2 separate regions of the Homo sapiens genome follow, and region 1 is linked to region 2. Evidence: fine-mapped QTL for protein levels in blood plasma. Region 2 holds a variant in brackets. A gene starts in the other region. All regions are shown on their forward strands.

Region 1 (3,067 bases), not on the chromosome of region 2:
CTTCAAAAGCCCTCAAGATCTGCTCCAAATGCCCCTGGTAGAGGTACCTGGGGCGTGGTCACGGATTGTCCTGGGGGTCAGGGCAGGGTGTCAGGTCGGGGGACCATCCCTCCCGACAGCACTCACCAAAGGATCTCTTCCCTTTCGAACACACTCCTCCCTCTGTCCTGGCTGCGGTGGCCACAGGACCTGGAACACAGCCCCGCTGACCTCAGGTCCTCCCCTGATCTCACAGGCTCAGTTTCCCCATCTGGCCTCCCATCTGGAGGTGCCCAGTTCTCAAACAGACCCTCTTCCCTGCCAGTCCAGCTCACCTCCCGGGGATCTGGCCATGCCTGGTCCAGCCGCAGAGAGTAGAGGGCGTCCAGGCCACCCAGAAAGAGGCGGTCTCGGTACTCATCTAGGTACATGGCCTGGAGGTTCAGGGAGCCCTGGGGGCCCAGAAAGATGGCAGAGCGGTTGGCAGACAGGAGGTCTAGGAGGATGTATGGGGAGGCAGATCAGGGCCACAGCTCAGCCTAGTTCCCCAGCCAAGGAGTGGAGGTGGAGGCCCCGGCTGAGCATCCACCCCTGACACACTCACATCTGGAAAATGTTTCCATCCACATGGTGCTGGAAGGCTTTCGGACCATGGCTCCTGGGGACAGGTGGGACGGGAGGCTCAGAGCCTCCCACCTGGCCCAGCCTACCCTGGGGCCTACCTCCCACCCCTCCATTCCTTAGCCCTTCATCATGCAGCTAACATCTTCCCACTGTCCCATCTGTGCCCTACCCAGTCCCCAGGGAAGAAGGCCCCAACCAGCAGAAACTAGAGCAAAGTGCTGGAAGATCCTGGAGGAAGGGCGGGAGTCTTTGCAGGCCGCCTGGCTCAGCTGGAGGGTGGGCCAGCAGGCGAAACTGTTCCCAGCAGAGGGGACCCCTGGCAATGGCCTGGGTGCAGAAAAGGGAAGGTATGGCCGGGAAGGGCTCCCACCTCCAGTCCAGGGATGCGGCCAAAGACAATTTTCTCCCCACAGATGCTGGCTATCCCACCCCAGAGATGAGAGCGGGGAGCTGTCTGGGGACATCGGTCCCAGGAGTTGAGGATCCTGAGGTAGGTCCTCCGGGCTTGGCTAGGGAGGTGGAGGTAATGGGGGCAGTAGGATGTGGCAGGAAGAGGGTGCTGGCCACCTTTGGGAAGGCCCAGAGTGTCCTATGCCTTCCCTACGGAAGCACCTCTACCCAACACCCATTCCACCCCCAAAACTCATCAACGGTCTCTTCCGGGAAGCCCTCCATGGATGACAGTACCTTGGGGAACTTTCCCTATTTGGGGCTTTTTCTAGCAGTCTGACCTCCCCGCAAAACCACAGCTCCCGGAACAAGACCACATTCCCCTCAGCCTCTCCAGGGACGAGCGCCATCTCCCCCAGCAGACTGGGCTTCCCAGGGGAAGGTGGTCACCCCTCTGGTTTCCTCAGGAAGGATCTGCCAAGAGCCTGTCTCGGGCCTTCCCTGGGCCCATCCGTGGAGGCCTGAGCCGGCTCACATGTCTAGGGTAGAACACAGGAACCCCCAGGCTGGGATGTGCAAAAAGGGGAGGTGAAACTCCCCCTGGGCTGGGGCGCTTCTTGGGTGCAGGAGCACATGAACAAGCCCACTCTGGGAAGTGGGCTGCAAGGGGGGTCCTCCCCTTCTCTGTGGCCCCAGGACCAAGGGATAGCATGCTGCCTGCTCTCCCGTTGGCCACCCTGGGCAAAAAGTGCCAGTTGAGCCCAGACAGACCCTTCAGCCCCACCCTCTCTGTCACTCTCCCCTGCCTGGTCCCTTCCTCTGTCTCCTCCCCATCTTTATTGAGCTCTCTCAGGGTCTCCATCTGTCCCTTTCTCAGCACTCCCCCTCAGGTGCCTCCCACCGCCACCCTGGTCCTGTCTCCCAGGACCTGCCTCCCTCCCACTCCCCGAGAGCTGTGCAGGGAGAGGCTCCCTCCCCTACAGCTGACCAGGCACCCAAGAGCCCAAGCCACCCAAACAGGGCACACGCACACAAACAGGGCACACGCACCCAAACAGGGCACACGCACACAAACATGGCACACGCACACAAACTCGGCACACGCACCCAAACAGGGCACACGCACACAAACTCGGCACACGCACACAAACACTGCACACGCACCCAAACAGGGCACACGCACACAAACACGGCACATGCACCCAAACAGGGCACACGCACACAAACAGGGCACACGCACACAAACACGGCACACGCAAACTCGGCACACGCACACAAACTCGGCACACGCACACAAACACGGCACACGCAAACTCGGCACACGCACACAAACTCGGCACACGCACACAAACACTGCACATGCACACAAACACGGCACACGCACCCAAACAGGGCACATGCACACAAACACGGCACATGCACCCAAACAGAGCGCACACACACAAACAGGGCACATGCACACAAACAGGGCACGCAGGGGCTGGTACCTCGGTAGGAGAGCCGCAGGCGGGGCACACTGGGGCCGGGGCTGGGGCCAGAGCTACCCCCATGGAGCAGGAGGCCCCCTAGCAGCCAGCAAATGGCCCAGGCCGAGGGGGCCATGCTGGGGAACTGAGGGCACCGCTGCCGCCTGCCTGCAGAGCCGCCCTCTGGTCCCGCTGGCCGCCGGTTGTAGTTTGCTCTGCTGCCACCAGGCCACCACTTATAAGGCAGTGGCTCCACCCAGTCCTGGGCGGGAAGAGGGGCGGAGGAGAGAAGGAGGCTGGGGCCTTGCCGTCCACCTGCCGCTTCTCCTTCCACCTTGTTGGCCCAGTGCAGGCTTTTGTGCCACACTGGCCAGCTCCCCATTGGGAAGACCTTCCCAGCTAGGGCACAGGCCATGTGTACAGAGATGTCCACAAATGCAGGTCCCCAGGCTCCAGCAAAGTGACAAGTGGGGAGAGAGCCTGGAAGGGAGGTCAGGGATCAGAGGTTAAAGTTGATGGGCTGGGTAGGGGCCTAGCTGGGCTCTGCCTTGTTCTCTGCCCCTCCACTGCCCACAGCAGAGACCTTCCAAACTGGCCCTGCCCCAATT
Region 2 (8,000 bases):
TCACATCAGCCTCCCAAGTAGCTGGGACTCCAGGTGCGCACCACCATGTCTAGCTAATTTTTTTTGTATTTTTTGTAGAGACGGGGTTTTGTCATGTTGCCCAGGCAGGTCTTGAACTGCTGGGCTCAAGTGATTTGCCTGCCTCAGTCTCCCAAAGTGTTGGGATTTCAGATGTGATCCACAGCACCTGGCCTAGGGTCCTTTAAAACAATGTGGGGGCTGGGCACAGCGGCTCACACCTGTAATCCCAGCACTTTGGGAGAGAGCATCACTTGAGCTCAGGAGTTTGAGACTAGACTGGGCAAGATGGAAAGACCCTGTCTCTAAAAATAATAATAATAATAATAAATAAAATAAAACAAATAAAACTGTGGGGTAGGCAGCTACTTGTGCCTTGAGGCAAAACCTCCCTGGTCCTTTTTCCTGCTTCTAGCTCAGGAAGGCTTCTTGGTCCTTGTGCCAAGTGGTCTTGCTCTTCTCTGTAGCCCAGGAAGAGGGTTAAGACCTTGTGCTGCAGCCTCTGGTACCTTGGTCCCTGCACACCTCAGGGGCCACAAACTGTCCATGTCGGTGAGATGTCCAGGAGTAGTGCCGGGGACTGGAAACTAGAGTGAAACCATCTCATTGGTCAGAATGAGAAGTGCTGTCATCTTTAAGAGGGAGACTGAAACAGGCATCTGAATCCCAGACCACCAAACATGCAGATTCAAGACTGCAGAGTTGGAGGGGACCCCAGAGAGCTATATCCACCCCCCAACTATAGATGAGGAATCTGCTGCTGAGAGAAAGGACCAGACTTGGCCAAGGCTGTAGCAGATCAGCAGGCACCTGAGGACCAGGAAGAATTAAGCGGGCAACTGAGGACCAAGGAACTAGATGTATTCCTAAGATGTTTTTACTGAGCCACATATTTACATAAGTATAATGATCTATGAAATATCTTTACATATAATATCTGGAGGAGCCCCAGCACAACCCATTGAGGTGGGTATTTATCTATTTTACAAAGAAGGCCCCTAGTGGGTAACTTGTCTTTGAGCATACAAGTAGGAAGGCATGCACCTTTGATTCCAAATCTTGCACCCAGGCTACTCACATGGCTTCAGAGTTCCCAGCAAATCCCCTTGCCACCTCCCTGTTCTCTGTAGTCTCTCTGTATGATAAGAGAGAGGCCGGGGCAGGGGTGGGCAGTGGGGAGCAAGGTAGGTGGTGGCCATGTCAAGAATGATGGTGGGGGCAGGCACAGCGGCTCATGCCTGTAGTCCTAGCACTTTGGGAGGCCAAGGAGAGGGGATTGCTTGAGGCCAGAAGTTCAAGACTTCAAGACCAGCCTGGACAACATAGTGAGACCCTATCTCTATTTTATATATATATATATATAAATTAAAAATAATCATAATAAATAATATATATAAATAAAAATAATAATAAGGCCAGCTGCAGTGGCTCAGGCCTGTAATCCCAGCACTTTGGGAGGGCGAGGTGGGCAGATTGCTTGAGCTCAGGAGTTCGAGACCAGCCTGAGCAACATGGCGAAACTGTGTCTCTACAAAAAATACAAAAATTAGCTGGGTTAATAAAAATATTGAGTATATATATATATATTCTTTACTATATATTCATTTTATACATATATATATATATATATATATATATATATATATATATATATGAACAAAGGGAAAATGAAGATTTAGTAGTTTTATGCCAAAGAGGAGTGAAATAGACCCTAATATGCTTGCCAGCTCTTCTTCCCTATCAGGGTTATGGGATGCTGGAGACACAACCATCTCTCTCATTCTCAGGGCTGTCTGCAAACCCCCCTTCCCTGAAACATCCCCCAACAGGTGCCATGTGTGAGCAGGCAGTGCCAGGAGGGGGAGGGGTTGACAGGCCATCTGAGTCAGACACTATCTGGGTAGAAAAGCTGGAGACACTGATAGCAGAGGTGGCCAGGTGCCATCTCATGCAACATTTATGTTAGGGAAGGCAAGACTGGTGTCATGTTCCATTCTGCTGTGCTGCGGAAGGGGAAATGAGCCGAAGGGAGAGATGCAGAGTGGGCGGGTCCCATATCCAGCAGCTGGGAGATACATCTATTCATTAGTACCCTTGCCAAGAAGCCTGGGAACAGGGAGGGGGCAGGGGCAAGGAGGACTGATGCTTGGGCGATGTGGGGCTGCAGCTTAACAAGATTAATTGGGCTTCTGGGTGCCAGGTGTAGGCTGGGAGTTGTCCCAGCTCCTAGAAACACAGGTAGACCAAACTGCTTGTCTTCTCTGAGTCTTGGTAACCTCATGTCTTAGTCAGTTTTACTTAGTTCTATTTAGTCAGGGCTGCCATAACAAATTACCATAGATTAGGGGGCTTAAAACAACAGAAATTCATTTCTCACAGTTCTGGAGCCTGGAGGTCTGAGATCTGGGTGCCGGCATGGCATTAGCACGAGATCTCTGATGAAGGCCTCTTCTAGGCTCTAGACTGCTGACTTCTTGATGTCCTCACATGGTGAAAAGAGGATGACAGGGCTCTCTGAGGTCCCTTTTATGTATTTATTTGCATTGATGATTATTATTATTGAGTCAAGGTCTCAAAAATGATTATTTTTACCCAGGCTGGAGTACAATGGCATGAACACACCTCATTGCAGCCTTGACCTCCCAGGCTCAAGTGATCCTCCCTCCTCAGCCTCCCGAGTAGCTGGGACTACAGGTGCATGCCAGCACACCCAGCCAATTTTTGTATTTTTTGTAGAGATGGGGTTTCACCATGTTGCTCAGGCTGGTCTGGAACTCCTGAGCTCAGGCGATCTGCCTGCCTCAGCCTCCCAAAGTGCTGGGATTACAGGCGTGAGCCACCGCACCCGGCCTTATTATTGTTTTTAATTGACATAATAATTGTACATATTTATGGGCTACAGTGTGATATTTCGATACATGTATACAAGCTGGGCTTGAAATCCAGGCAGCCTGATCTAATGTTTCCTAGCTTTTCCTACTGAGAAAATGAAGGTAATTAGCATATCCATCACCTCAAACACTTAAAACATTTCTTTGAGTTGGGACGATTTCAAATTTGCTGTTCCAGCTATTTGAAAATATACGATAGATTGCTGTTGGTTATACTCACTCTACAGTGCTAAAGAACACTAGAGCTTACTCCTCCTGTCTAGCTATACTTTTGTATCCATTAACCAACCTTTAGCTGCCCCCGCTCCCCTCTGGGGTCCCTTTTATAAGGGTTCCAATCCCATTCGTGGAGGGCCCTACCCTCATGACCTAATCACCTCCCAAAGGCCCCACCTCCTAACACCATCACACTGGAGGTTAGGATTTCAACACAGGAAATCTGGGAGGAACAAACATTCCACTGTACCCCATCTGTAGAACATAGCAGCAGTACCCACTTCAGGGGGGTTCTGTGAAGATGGGATAATAGAATGCATGTAAAACACCTTGCACATGGTAAGTGCTCAGTACCTGTGAAAAACACAAAAAACAGGCTGGGCATGGTGGCTCAAGCCTGTAATCCCAGCATTTTGGGAGGCCGAGGTGGGTGGATCATGATGTCAGGAGATCGAGACCATCCTGGCTAACACAGTGACACCCCGTGTTACAAAAAAATACAAAAAAATTAGACAGGTGACATAATCCAGGATGCAACTGGGAAAGTCCCAGGCACAGCTGCCCTGTGGGCAGGGGATAATCCCCCCAAAAAATACAAAAAAATACAAAAATAAAAAATTAGCTGGGCTTGGTGGCGGGCGCCTGTAGTCCCAGCTACTTGGGAGGCTGAGGCAGGAGAATGGCGTGAACCCAGGAGGCAGAGCTTGCAGTGAGCCAAGATCGCGCCACTGCACTCCAGCCTGGGCGACAGAGTGAGACTCCGTCTCAAAAAAAAAAAAAAAAAAGAAAGAAAAGAAAAACACAAGAAACAACTATATCAGTGAGCATGAGAAGTGATGCCGTAGTAACAAACCACTCCCAAATCTTGGTGGCTTAGAACAACGGTTTATGTATTTCTTGCTTATGGTCCGTGCCAACCGGGGATCGGTGGGGGCTCCGCTCTCACTGTTGTCTCCTGGGACCCTCGCTAGTGGCATCAGTCACCATCAGCTGTCCTCGCATCAGAGGGAAGGGAACTCTGGGAGGTCTCCCACTGCAGCTAAGTGCTGTGGCCCGGAAATACACACATCTCTGCTCACATGTCATTGGCCAGAGGAAGGCAGATGGCCTCACTTAACCTCAAGAGAGCGGAGCAAGGAAGTACAACCTTGCCTTGCACCTGGAATATTCGTGAGCAGCTCTAATGGCATCCATGTCACTGAGGTGGCTTCTGTCTGACTCCAATGTCAATAATAATAGCAGTGACTAACATTAATTGGCCACTTTCCATGTACAAGACATCATAGTAAGCGTTTTCTGTAAATGATCACACTTAATCCTCA[C/T]AGTGCTGCTATGAGTCAGATACTTTACAGACAACAGGACGGAAGTCAGAGAGGGTAAGTAACCTGGCCTGAGAACACTGTGCTGGCTTCTGCTTAGAGCCTTGAGATGCCACAACTGGGGCTGACACCCACTGTCCCCAGAACCGTGGGTGGATGGGTAGAGTGCTCGCAGGGGACTGTGGCACCAACACCCTGTTTCCAGGTCAGAGGCCCTGGGCTTTTTTCCGGAGCCCCCACAGGAAGATGGTGCAGGAGGGGAGGGGCCACGGGAGGAAGTGATGGAGAGAATGCAAAGCCTGGAAGGGCAGCTCCTTCCCACCTTCACCTCTGCCCATGAAGCCAGGGGCCCTGCCAGGCACTGGAGGGCTGGACTCACATCAAGTCGGGGAAGGGCTGGCTACGTAGGTTTCACCACGGAGCTGTGGATGGCTCCCTCTCCTCCACCGTGGGTATCTTCCTGAACACTTAGTTTTCACTGAACACGTAGGAAGTCTGAAATGTCACCGCTAATTACATTCAGCCCCTGGGAGAGATGTCATGTTCTGGGGGTGGAGGGAATAAACTTTGAAGTCAGGAAAGTCAGGAATGGAGAACTCAGGCCTTGGCCCTGTCATAGCTGGATGACTGGATGGCTGGTAAGTCACTTGGTTTCTTTGAGCCCTCAGTTTTCTAATCTGTAAAATGAGGATATTAATAGCCAGCCCACTTCACAGAAAGGTGATCACAGTCAAGATGGTACATGAAGTATTTTGTGATCTATAAAGAACTATCTAAATAAGCTTCTCCTAAAAAAGATCAAAGGAAGCGTGATACATTTAGGTGGGGAGGTGGGACCCTGATTTTTCCATTTACTGTGCATTTGTTTGACCTCCTGACCTTCTTTGTAGAACAAGCTGGAAGCAGGGAAGGTAACTTTAGGCCTGAAGAGGTGCTTTTCTGAGGGTCTCCTGAGTAGGGTACAACCTTGGGACTAGAGAGCCTCCAGACCTGTGGGAAAGTGGCACAGATAAGGGGAGCACCCCCTGCCCGTGGGGCAGCTGTGCCTGGGGCTGGCTGCCCCAGTTGCATCCTGGATTATGTCACCTGTCTCTGCTTCACCCCAGCAAAGCTAAGGTGAGGGGATGGTTTGATGGAAAGGGATGGAAGAAGTGGGGGGAAAGTGGGGGCAACAGAATTTTTAGCTGTAAATAATAAGTCAAGTAAGGCACAGGGTGTGATAATAACTCTCACAGTCAACTCTTATGGAGTGCCAAGTCTGTGCCAGGCACTGTTCTACACTCTTTTCCAGTATTAACTCATTTGAACCTTGCTGTAACCACAACAGGAAGGTTAGGGTTATTATTATGTCCATTTTGTAGATGAGGAAACTGAGGCAAACAAAGCTTAAGTATGGCTGGGCACGGTGGCTCACGCCTGTAATCCCAGCACTTTGGGAGGCCAAGGCCGGCGGATCACTTGAACCCAGGAGTTCAAGACCAACCTGGCCAACGTGGCAAAACCCCGTCTCTATGAAAAATACAAAAATTAGCCGGGCATGGTGGTACATGCCTGTAATCCCAGCTACTCAGGAGGGTGAGGCAGGAGAATCACTTGAATCCGGGAGGCGGGTGTTGCAGTGAGCCGAGATCGTGCCACTGCACTCCAGCCTGGGCGACAGAGCAAGACTCTGTCTCAAAAAAAAAGAAAAGAAAGCTTAAGTTGCTTGCTCTGAGTCACATAGCTAGGTAGCAGAGAACTGGGTTTGAAATCCAGGCAGCCTAGTCTAGTGTTTCCCAGCTTTTCCTACTGAGAAAATCACCTGGAAGAGTGCTTTTGAAAACAGGGATTATTGAACCCAACCATGACCTAGGAACTAGCATTTTTTTTTTTTTTTTTTTTTTTTGAGATGGAGTCTTGGTCTGTTGCCCAGGCTGGAGTGCAGGGGCGCCATCTCGGCTCACTGTAGCTCCGCCTCCCAGGTTCACACCATTCTCCTGCCTCAGCCTCCCGAGTAGCTGGGACTACAGGCGCCCACCATCATGCCCGGCTAATTTTTGTATTTTTAGGAGAGACGGGGTTTCACCGTGTTAGCCAGGATGGTCTCGATCTCCTGACTTTGTAATCCGTCCACCTCGACCTCCCAAAGTCCTGGGATTACAGGCGTGAGCCACCGCACCCGGCCTCCAGGGGATTCTTAAATTTAGGGACGTGTAGCAACTGGACTATGCTGTACTGGGTAAGAGTGAGGAGGAAACCTGTTTGCTTGAATGGAAGGCTTTTGAAGGAAGCAGCCAGGGACAGTCTGGAAAGCCTTCCTGTATACATTAAATCTAAGATACCTGAGTTGTAGGACACACTGTTATTCTATGTACCATAAAAACAAAATATACTGATAATCTGGCCATGGCCTGACACTTTCTTTTTCCTTTTCCTTTTTTTTTTTTTTTTTTTTTGAGACGGAGTTTCGCTCTTGTTGCTCAGGCTGGAGTGCAATGGTGTGATCTCAGCTCACCGCAACCTCTGCCTGCAGGGTTCAAGCTACTCTCCTGCCTCAGCCTCCCCAGTAGCTGGGATCACAGGCATGTACCACCACTCCCTGCTAATTTTGTATTTTTAGTAGAGAACAGGGTTTCTCCATGTTGGTCAGGCTGGTCTCAAACTCCCAACCTCAGGTGATCTGCCCGCCTCGACCTCCCAAAGTGCTGGGATTACAGGTGTGAGCCACCACCCCCAGGCTAGACACTTTCTTATTGAGCTTATTTCACAGATGTTGTAAGTACGAAGAAATGTACATCTCAGCAGTGATGAGTTCTTTGGGCTGGGACTAGATACCGGAGGGCTTTGAAGCCAGGGTAGGTGGTGCCTGGTTGAGTCCAAGGTGAGGAGAATGGCTGAAGGCCTGGGAGGACCACCTGGTGTGGTGGCAGAGCCGGCCTGGGCTTAGGAGCTCAGCTCTGCCTCCGCCCCAACTACTGGGTCTCGGGGGCCAGTTGCTTTAACTCTCAGAGCCTCAGTTTTCTCACCTGTGTTCTGCAAGAAGGATGGTAGAGGCTGCCTCTCATGCCTCCTGAGGCTGTTAACAGAAGGAGAAGGGAGGTGACAACATAACAGCAGTGCAAGGTGTGGGAGGTAGCGGGCTAGGCACACTCGGCCTGATGCCATGTGCACCCCTCCTTCCCCCTCAGCCACAGGCCTAATGATTGGCTGCCTGGTCTACCCTGATGGTTGGGACTCAAGTGAGGTGCGGCGCATGTGTGGGGAGCAGACGGGCAAGTACACGCTGGGCCACTGCACCATCCGCTGGGCCTTCATGCTGGCCATCCTCAGCATTGGCGACGCCCTCATCCTCTCCTTCCTGGCCTTCGTGTTGGGCTACCGGCAGGACAAGCTCCTCCCTGACGACTACAAGGCAGATGGAACCGGTAATCACCCAACTCCACAATGGTGTCCCCTGCCTGGAGACCCTGGGATGTGGGTGGGGGTTCATCTTAGCCAGTCCTCTAAGGCTTGGTCCCTGGCCAAGGGATGGGGACACCAAGACTAATCAGACACACCCCTTGTCCTCCCTGAAATC

Alleles and levels. Positions count from the first base shown, and alleles are read on the strand shown. Strength reflects both the effect of a copy and how common the allele is.
In carriers of allele T in region 2, the plasma level of the protein whose gene starts at base 2,671 in region 1 tends to be higher than with C alone (moderate association).

The links. PIP is the chance, under the fine-mapping model, that this variant and not a neighbour inherited with it causes the effect. The UK Biobank Pharma Proteomics Project read protein levels with antibody pairs (Olink). The fine-mapping took linkage between variants from a reference panel, not from the people measured, so its PIPs are less certain.
Region 1: it holds the start of SEMA3G, and the variant in region 2 is fine-mapped to the plasma level of the SEMA3G protein (UK Biobank, PIP above 0.99).

Annotation. Positions count from the first base shown.
Region 1 is chr3:52,442,433-52,445,499 of GRCh38, forward strand. SEMA3G (semaphorin 3G) reads right to left here and starts at 2,671. Exons shown (of 16, transcript NM_020163.3): 1 at 2,481-2,671; 2 at 315-475; 3 at 127-189. The coding sequence starts at 2,595. RefSeq lists enhancers at 1,768-2,644, 2,645-3,067.
Region 2 is chr6:35,806,935-35,814,934 of GRCh38, forward strand. LHFPL5 (LHFPL tetraspan subfamily member 5) reads left to right here. Exons shown (of 4, transcript NM_182548.4): 2 at 7,612-7,848. Among named protein-coding and RNA genes, the nearest start is that of LHFPL5, 5.6 kb to the left of the region's middle. The variant C/T (reference allele first, on the strand shown) is at 4,448.